Linked DNA regions of Homo sapiens. The protein of the gene in region 1 purifies or fractionates together with the protein of each later gene. This does not show direct contact. Each region holds a gene or a part of one and is shown in the gene's direction. Other genes may lie near its edges.

Region 1 (3,929 bases):
GGTTCTGGGATTGGGAAGCGGGGGACGCAGGGCTCCGAGCGATGAGGGCTGGTTGGGTTCAAAGCGCGAACCAGTAGTTACTTACCCACGTGCTTGGGGCCAACTTTAGCGAATATCAGAGTTTCACTGATTATTCAAAGAATCAGGCTTTCTTTGAATAATCGTGAAATTGGACAATAAATTGTAAGCCCCGATGAAAAGGTGTGCTTTCCAGTAGACAGACTCTATTTTATTTCAATTTACCTCCCTCCACTCCTCCCCAATTTAGGGTTGCTGGATAAAATACTGATACATACTCCTACAAAAAAAAAAAGCCCTCCTTTTTTATCTGAAATCACATTTCACTGAGCCGACAGTGTTTTGTTGGTTAAACCTGGTACCCTGCCCGTCTCAGCCCCGGGCAGTCCACTCCTCTCTCTGCTTCTCTCCCTTTCCCCAGCTCTTGTGAGTCTGCCACCCCCTACAGTTCAGCCCGTGGAGTGTTGGGGATGGACCTGGGGGTGGATTTGGATGGAGGTAGAATGACCATGGATTAAAGGGATGGAGGTAGGATGACCATGGATTAAATACACGGTTTTCATTCCTTTCCCCTTGGGGATTTTCAGAGAAGGCCTTCTTACAGGAAGGCCTTCGTGGCACCGGCGGCGGAGGTGGAGGGCTGGCTGGGGACATATATGGGGTAGCCATCGGGGTGTGGTTGGGAATGGGGTCCTAGGTCTTAATAGGCAGTTGGGTCGCATCAAAGAAGCTTCAGGGCAGCTGGGAGTGGGGCCTCCACCCAGAGAGTCTGGAAGGAAGGAGAAGGCCACGCCAGGATGTAGAACTTGCGACTTTTCGAGGGACAGGCAGACAGCGGAGTCACTGTCCCTTACCTTCTTTCCTCCCCTCCCTCCTAGAATGGGGGTGGGGTGGGGTGGGGTGGGCTGGACAGAAGAGAGGAGGAGAAGGAGGTGACTGAGGGGACTGCAGCTGGGTGGGCGGTAACCGAGGGGAGGGGAACTGGTGGCGTCCCCATCTCGCGGGGTCCGGAACGGCGACGCGCCCGCGCCCAGCTGATTGGAGCCCTTCAGGCCTCCCGCGCCCGACCGGCAGCCCAATCCTATAAAGCTTCCTCTAAGCTGGGCCCTCCGCAAACGGGATCCAGAGAGGCTCGCGCCTTGCTTGCTAAGGAACCATGACCGGCCGGGACTCGCTTTCCGACGGGCGCACTAGCAGCAGGGCGCTGGTGCCTGGCGGTTCCCCTAGGGGCTCGCGCCCCCGGGGCTTCGCCATCACGGACCTGCTGGGCTTGGAGGCCGAGCTGCCGGCGCCCGCTGGCCCAGGACAGGGATCTGGCTGCGAGGGTCCGGCAGTCGCGCCGTGCCCGGGCCCGGGGCTTGACGGCTCCAGCCTGGCGCGTGGGGCCCTACCGCTGGGACTCGGCCTCCTCTGTGGCTTCGGCACGCAGCCGCCGGCGGCCGCTCGAGCACCCTGCCTGCTCCTAGCGGACGTGCCGTTCCTGCCGCCCAGGGGCCCCGAGCCCGCTGCCCCGCTGGCTCCCAGCCGTCCGCCGCCTGCGCTCGGCCGCCAGAAGCGCAGCGACAGCGTCTCCACGTCCGGTAATCAGGCCCGCGCTTTCCGCTCCTGCCCCTGTCCCCTAGGCTCTGAGCCGCGCAGGGGTCACAGACCATCGCCCCACCGCACCCCTGGCCCCAGCGGCCCAGATCTAGGCGGGGAGCCCAGAGCGAGGCCCCGTCGCGGGAGGGGCATTCGCGGAGCTGCGCCGCCTGCCCCTTGCTGCATCCTAAATCCCTGCCTCTCATCCGGGGTCCTGTTCCCTCAGCGATGTGAGACCGCCACCACCTGGTTCCGGGTGGAACCTTTTGATGAGACCCTGGGGTCTTCAACAACCATCTCCAGAGGGCCATTTTTCCCCCCAGCGCCAGGCGCCAGTCTCCGCCTCTGGCAGCTGCGTGGGTCGGGAAGGCCCGGGCCTGTGGTGGTCACCAGCAGCACCGAACAAGGTACCAGGTGGAAACGCGGGCGGAAATGATCGAATGATTGACGGGTCCTGGAAGAGTACGGGGCCTCGAGCCCTGGAACTGTCCGCCCCTTGGGGTGCTGAAAAGGGAGTCCCGGGTACCGCGCTCCTCTGCCGGCGCAGCGTCCTCCCAGTCCCCTGTGCAGGAGAAAGAAGCAACCTTGGGGATTCATTGTAGTTACGCCTAGAGATGTGTTCCTGGCCTACCCATTTCCCCAAAGAAATCCAGACGGGTCGCGGGGAAAGAGAAGGAAGCAATGAAATTCTATAAAGGACAAGGGCTAAGGAAACGAGTGGTTTTGGGTGTGGGAGAGAAAAGAAAGAATTACACAAGAAAGGATGGTATGTGGTAGAATCTAGAGCTGAGCATCCAGGCAGCCAAGGCAAAAAGAGTAGACTGGGTCTTCTGATACTAAAAGGAAGCATGTCAGATCAATAGGCAGGCAGGTTTTTGCTCCACTCTAAAAGGACTTTATTTCATGAGCTCTACGTAAGATAAAATGAAACTCCCTATTAGTGTCACTAAAAATGCAAAACTGTTTTCATGGGATGGGTTCTTTCTTACAAAACCAAAGGCAGCTAAATCCAACTCTGCCAGCATTTCTGAAAGTCTGGAGCAGAGCTGTCCAAGAAAAATGAAATGTGATTTCATGTTTGACGGAAATTTCTCACAGTCACATTAAAAGTGAAATGAATCTAAATACTATATTTTAACCCAACAATGATAGCAAATATTATCATTTTACACATAATCAATACAAAAATATTTTACTTTTTAGGAGCACTAAGTCTTCTAACTCCATTAAGTGATTTATGTTTACAGCATGTCTTGATCTTACTGGCCACATTTCATGTGCTTAATAACCTTATGTGTCTCATGTCTCATCAGGTTGGACAGCCCAATACAGAATGTTTTAATCCAAGCCAGGTTTCTGGTGAACTAATTGATGGATGAGTAAAACTAGTATTATTTAGTTATTTTTGCCTTTATTCATTTTAAAGATATTTTGAGGCAATTATGCCTTCTAGCAATGAATCTCACAATAGTTTGGCCTTCTAACCTTCTTTTCCATCTAGACTTTTTGATGTATTGGATATAAAAAGGTAAAGCACAGTGGAGTGGTTCTCAAATTTTCAAGGGCAACTACACATCATCTGAGCACACTTGTCAAGAATGAGCCTCCTAGATCCCACCTCCAGAGATTCTGATTTGGTGCATCAGGGAAGGGTTGCAGTTCTGACGAGGGTTCTGATGTCACAAGCCCCAGACTTCCTTTGGGAAATGTTGGTGTAGAGGTTAAGATGATGAGGCTGGGGGCATAGGGGTGGATGTGTTTGGAAGCAGTGTGGGGATAGAAAGTGCAATCAGTGGCTGAGTAGTTTTGGCTTCAGATAATCTGGGATTTGAATTCTCAACTTCACCATTTACTACCTGTGTGATTTTGGGCAAATTACTTAACCATTCGGTGCCTCAGTTTCCTCATCTGTAAAAATAGGATGATAATAATAGCAGCAGCCATTTTGGTGTTTTATTATTATATTAAGAATACTTGAGATAATGTATGGACAGTGTTAAGCACAGAGCCTGGGATCTAGTAGGCACTAAAAATGCTGGCTCATACTGTAAACTACTTAAGTACCCAAGAGGTTCATAACTTCAATCCTCACATTAAAATCCAGGAAATAGAGGGGATATGATCACCCTTAAAGTCCTCTTCTTCTTTCTGTGCCATCAGATGAGGACAGCCAGTCTGAAGACAGGAATGACCTAAAGGCATCCCCCACCTTGGGCAAGAGGAAGAAGCGGCGGCACAGGTATAGGGCCAGGCAGTCCCCTCTGCCTGCCTTTCCTCGGGACACAGCCCAAGGTTTATGGCACCTGCATCTGAGAATTTATGGCCCGGCATGA
Region 2 (3,500 bases), on another chromosome or scaffold:
CATAATTTAAATAAATCATTCTCCTGTTGATAAACATTTAGGATATTTTCAGACTTCTGCTGTTATAAATAAGCAGCCGTATTTATGCTTGTTTTGGTACATGCACAGATACTTACCTGGCATCGATACCTGGGAGAACTAGGTTGCATTATTTTAAATCTGTTACCAAAATTGCCTTTACAACGTGCCATACCAGTTTATACTCCCAGCAGCAACAGTTGAGAATGTCCATTTCTCCATACTCAAGCTAACACTGGATGGAAACTAAGTCAATTTTTATTTTGCCAAAGTGATGGGCAAAATGATATTTTGTCATTGTTTTAATTGTTATTTCCCAGTCCCTTGTCATGTATTATTTAGGCATTTGTATTTCTACTCTGAATTGGCTATTTTCCTTTGCCAGTTTTTAAAATTTTTTTTCTTGTTTTGTAAAGGGTTTTTTTTTAAATATTCTGTATATTAAACCTTTACATAGTCTGGATATTAATATGCAAATAATTATCCTTGTTCGTCACTTGTCTTCATTTATGTTGACTTTGCCATACAGAAGTTCATAGTTTTTACATAGTCAGTCTTTGATGTGTTTTGTATTCTGTTCAGTAGCAACAACAATTATATAGGTTGAGCATCCGTAATCCAGAAATCTGAAACTTTTTGAGCTGCATGATGCCACATGGGGTGGCTGAGGTAGTAACAACTTTACTTTCTGATGGTTCAGTGTACACAAATTTACTTCCCTGCACAAAGTTTTTAAAAATACTATATGAAGTTGCACTCCATCCTGGGCAACAAGAGCAAAACTCCATCTCAAAAAAAAAAAAAAAAAAGTACTATATAAAGTTACCTCCAGGCTATAAGGTGTATATGAAACAAATGAATTTCATGTTTAGATTTGAGTCACATCCCCAAAATATCTCATTATGTGTATGAAAATATTCTCAAATCTGAAGCAGTCTGAAGTCCCAACCACTGCTGGTCCCAAGCATTTTAGATAAAGGATATTCAACATGTAGTGATATTGCCAATATTGTTACTGTGGTTGTTGTTGAACAGAATACAAAACCTATTGTTGTATTCTAAGCACTTTTAATCTTCCTCCCAGCCTTGTGAGGTACAGGTACTGCTGTGAGCCCCATTTTTCAGATGAGGAATTATGGAACAGGGAGCTTGAATAAGTTGCCTATGCCACGCGTGCAGTTAGAAGTAGAACCATAGCACCAACCCAGACAGCCTTGCTCTAGCAGCTGTGCCCTCCTACCCCCATAAAAAGCTTCACTCATTCCCTTTCTGTTTTTACAATGACTTTGCAAAGAAAGATGGTATTCTGTTTTGTTGTTGTTGTTTTTGAGATGGAGTTTTGCTCTTGTTGCCCAGGCTGGAGTGCAATGGCGCAATCTCGGCTCACTGCAACCTCTACCTCCCGGGTTCAAGCGATTCTTCTGCCTCAGCTTCCCAAGTAGCTGGGATTACAGGCATGTGCCACCATGCCCAGTGAATTTTTTGTATTTAGTAGAGACGGACTTTCACCATGTTGGCCAGGCTGGTCTCAAACTCTTTACCTCAGGTGATCCACCTGCCTTGGCCTCCCAGAGTGCTGGATTATAGGCATGAGCCACTGCGCTTGGCCTGCTTTTTTTTTTTTTTTAAACTTACTATGGGATTGAACATTTTCTCATGTTTTTTAGCCTTTTGATTGTTTTTTTCTTATAAATTGATTGCCATTTATAAGATTGTCCAGTTTGGTTTTCTTTTATATGAGATTTGCTTTTATATGTTGAAAATGTTAATAATTTTCAGGTTTCACTTTTTTTAAAACTTTTTTAAAGATTTCTAATACATAGAACTTAATTTTATGTAGTCATATCTGTATCTCTTCTAAAATGTAATTGTTAATTTGTTTTATCTTAGACTTTCCCTAAATTTTTTTCTAAATTTGTATGCATTCATTTTTAAAATGTAAAATCTTTCTGGAACTTATTAAATGTACATTGAGGATCTAAAAATAAAATGTCCTAAATAGGTAATTTTTCTCAATGCATTTTATTGACCAATTCATGTATGTTCTTGTGTGTGGGCTTATACTGGGCATTACTTTGTGTGTGGCATGGTGGAGTCAGGCTGCCCAGTTTGAATCCTGGCTCTGCCATTTCTTGGCAGTGTGACTGTACTCTGTCTCGTCCCATTTTCATGTTTACAAATAAAGTTAATAACAATATTACATGGTTGTTGGGGATCAAATGAGATACTGCCTCTAAAGTCCTTACTGTTCTATGGTAGAGTTGTATATTGCCAAGCACAGGGTAAAGCACGCTTGATGTTAGCACCACCAATATTTCAGTTATATTTACTCATTTGTGTAACTGCAGGGAACGTTTTGTGGAATTATAAAGTCTCACATTTGGAAGGGACTTGAGATTATCTGGATTATATAGATAATTCTTGATAACATGATTCTTAAACCTGACTCTACATCAGAGTTAGTTGGAGGAGCTTTGAAAAGCCCCACGTTCTGGGCTTACCCCTTATCAACTAAATCAGAATCCCTGGGATGTATGGTTCAGTAATTTATTTTTGATAAACTTTGTGGGTCTAAAGCAGTTGGCTTGGCATTGGCAAATGGTTGTCCAACTTCTGCTTTAAAGCTTGCCAAGTTGAAATATTTGTGAAATAATAAGTCAGGTAAGCTAATAAGCAATTTCTTCTTAAATTCTCAGTATCTGTTATGCCAATATATAAGGATAGGTTTTGCCCTTTTCTCAGGATCAATTAGTAGTATTTTTAAACAAGATTTTAATTAATTTTACATTTTCCCCAAATACAGATAAAAGTTTTAGATGCGAAAGTTATTTGTTATACATTACAAAAACATTGTGCATTTATATTTTAGTTCTGATCCAATACTAGATATTCTTTTATAAATTGGTTTTTTATGAAGTTATGAATTCTGAAATAATTCTCTAATATAATGTTTTTATTTTCAGAGCTTTTTGACAACTACATGCAACAAGATGCCCATGAATTCTTAAATTACCTACTAAATACAATTGCTGATATTTTACAAGAAGAGAGAAAGCAGGAAAAACAAAATGGTCGTTTACCTAATGGTAATATTGATAATGAAAATAATAACAGCACACCAGACCCAACGTGGGTTCATGAGATTTTTCAGGGAACATTAACTAATGAAACCAGATGTCTTACTTGTGAAACTGTAAGTATATCATACAATTTTGTATAGAGAAAAATTGAATTACTATGTTAAAGGTTGTTCTTTGAGAAAGACAGAATGGAAGATGAACTTGAAAGTTGTAATTCTTAGGTATAGGAGTTAAAGATGTATTTTTCAGTTAAAAGGAATCTGTCTGTATTCTTAATGTAATGTTGCTTATTGACAATGAATACCTGAGGTGATAGAAAGATACTTACTGTAGCTTGAACTGTTTGATTTTCTTTCAGTTTAGGAGGCCATAGAACCATGTTGTGGAAATTATGTCTTATGA

What was found.
Region 2: the proteins of VSX1 (region 1) and USP12 purify together in Homo sapiens (affinity purification with mass spectrometry; 4 studies listed by BioGRID and IntAct, with this or other methods). This does not show direct contact.

Annotation. Positions count from the first base shown.
Region 1 is NC_000020.11:25,079,342-25,083,270, reverse strand, and holds the start of VSX1 (visual system homeobox 1), read left to right. Parts: upstream 1-1,129; 5' UTR 1,130-1,174; coding exon 1,175-1,598; intron 1,599-1,939; exon of another isoform or gene 1,940-2,003; intron 2,004-3,756; coding exon 3,757-3,835; intron 3,836-3,929. UniProt on the Homo sapiens protein: Binds to the 37-bp core of the locus control region (LCR) of the red/green visual pigment gene cluster. May regulate the activity of the LCR and the cone opsin genes at earlier stages of development. Dispensable in early retinal development.
Region 2 is NC_000013.11:27,095,312-27,098,811, reverse strand, and holds part of USP12 (ubiquitin carboxyl-terminal hydrolase 12), read left to right. Parts: intron 1-2,981; coding exon 2,982-3,211; intron 3,212-3,500. UniProt on the Homo sapiens protein: Deubiquitinating enzyme that plays various roles in the regulation of the immune response and inflammation.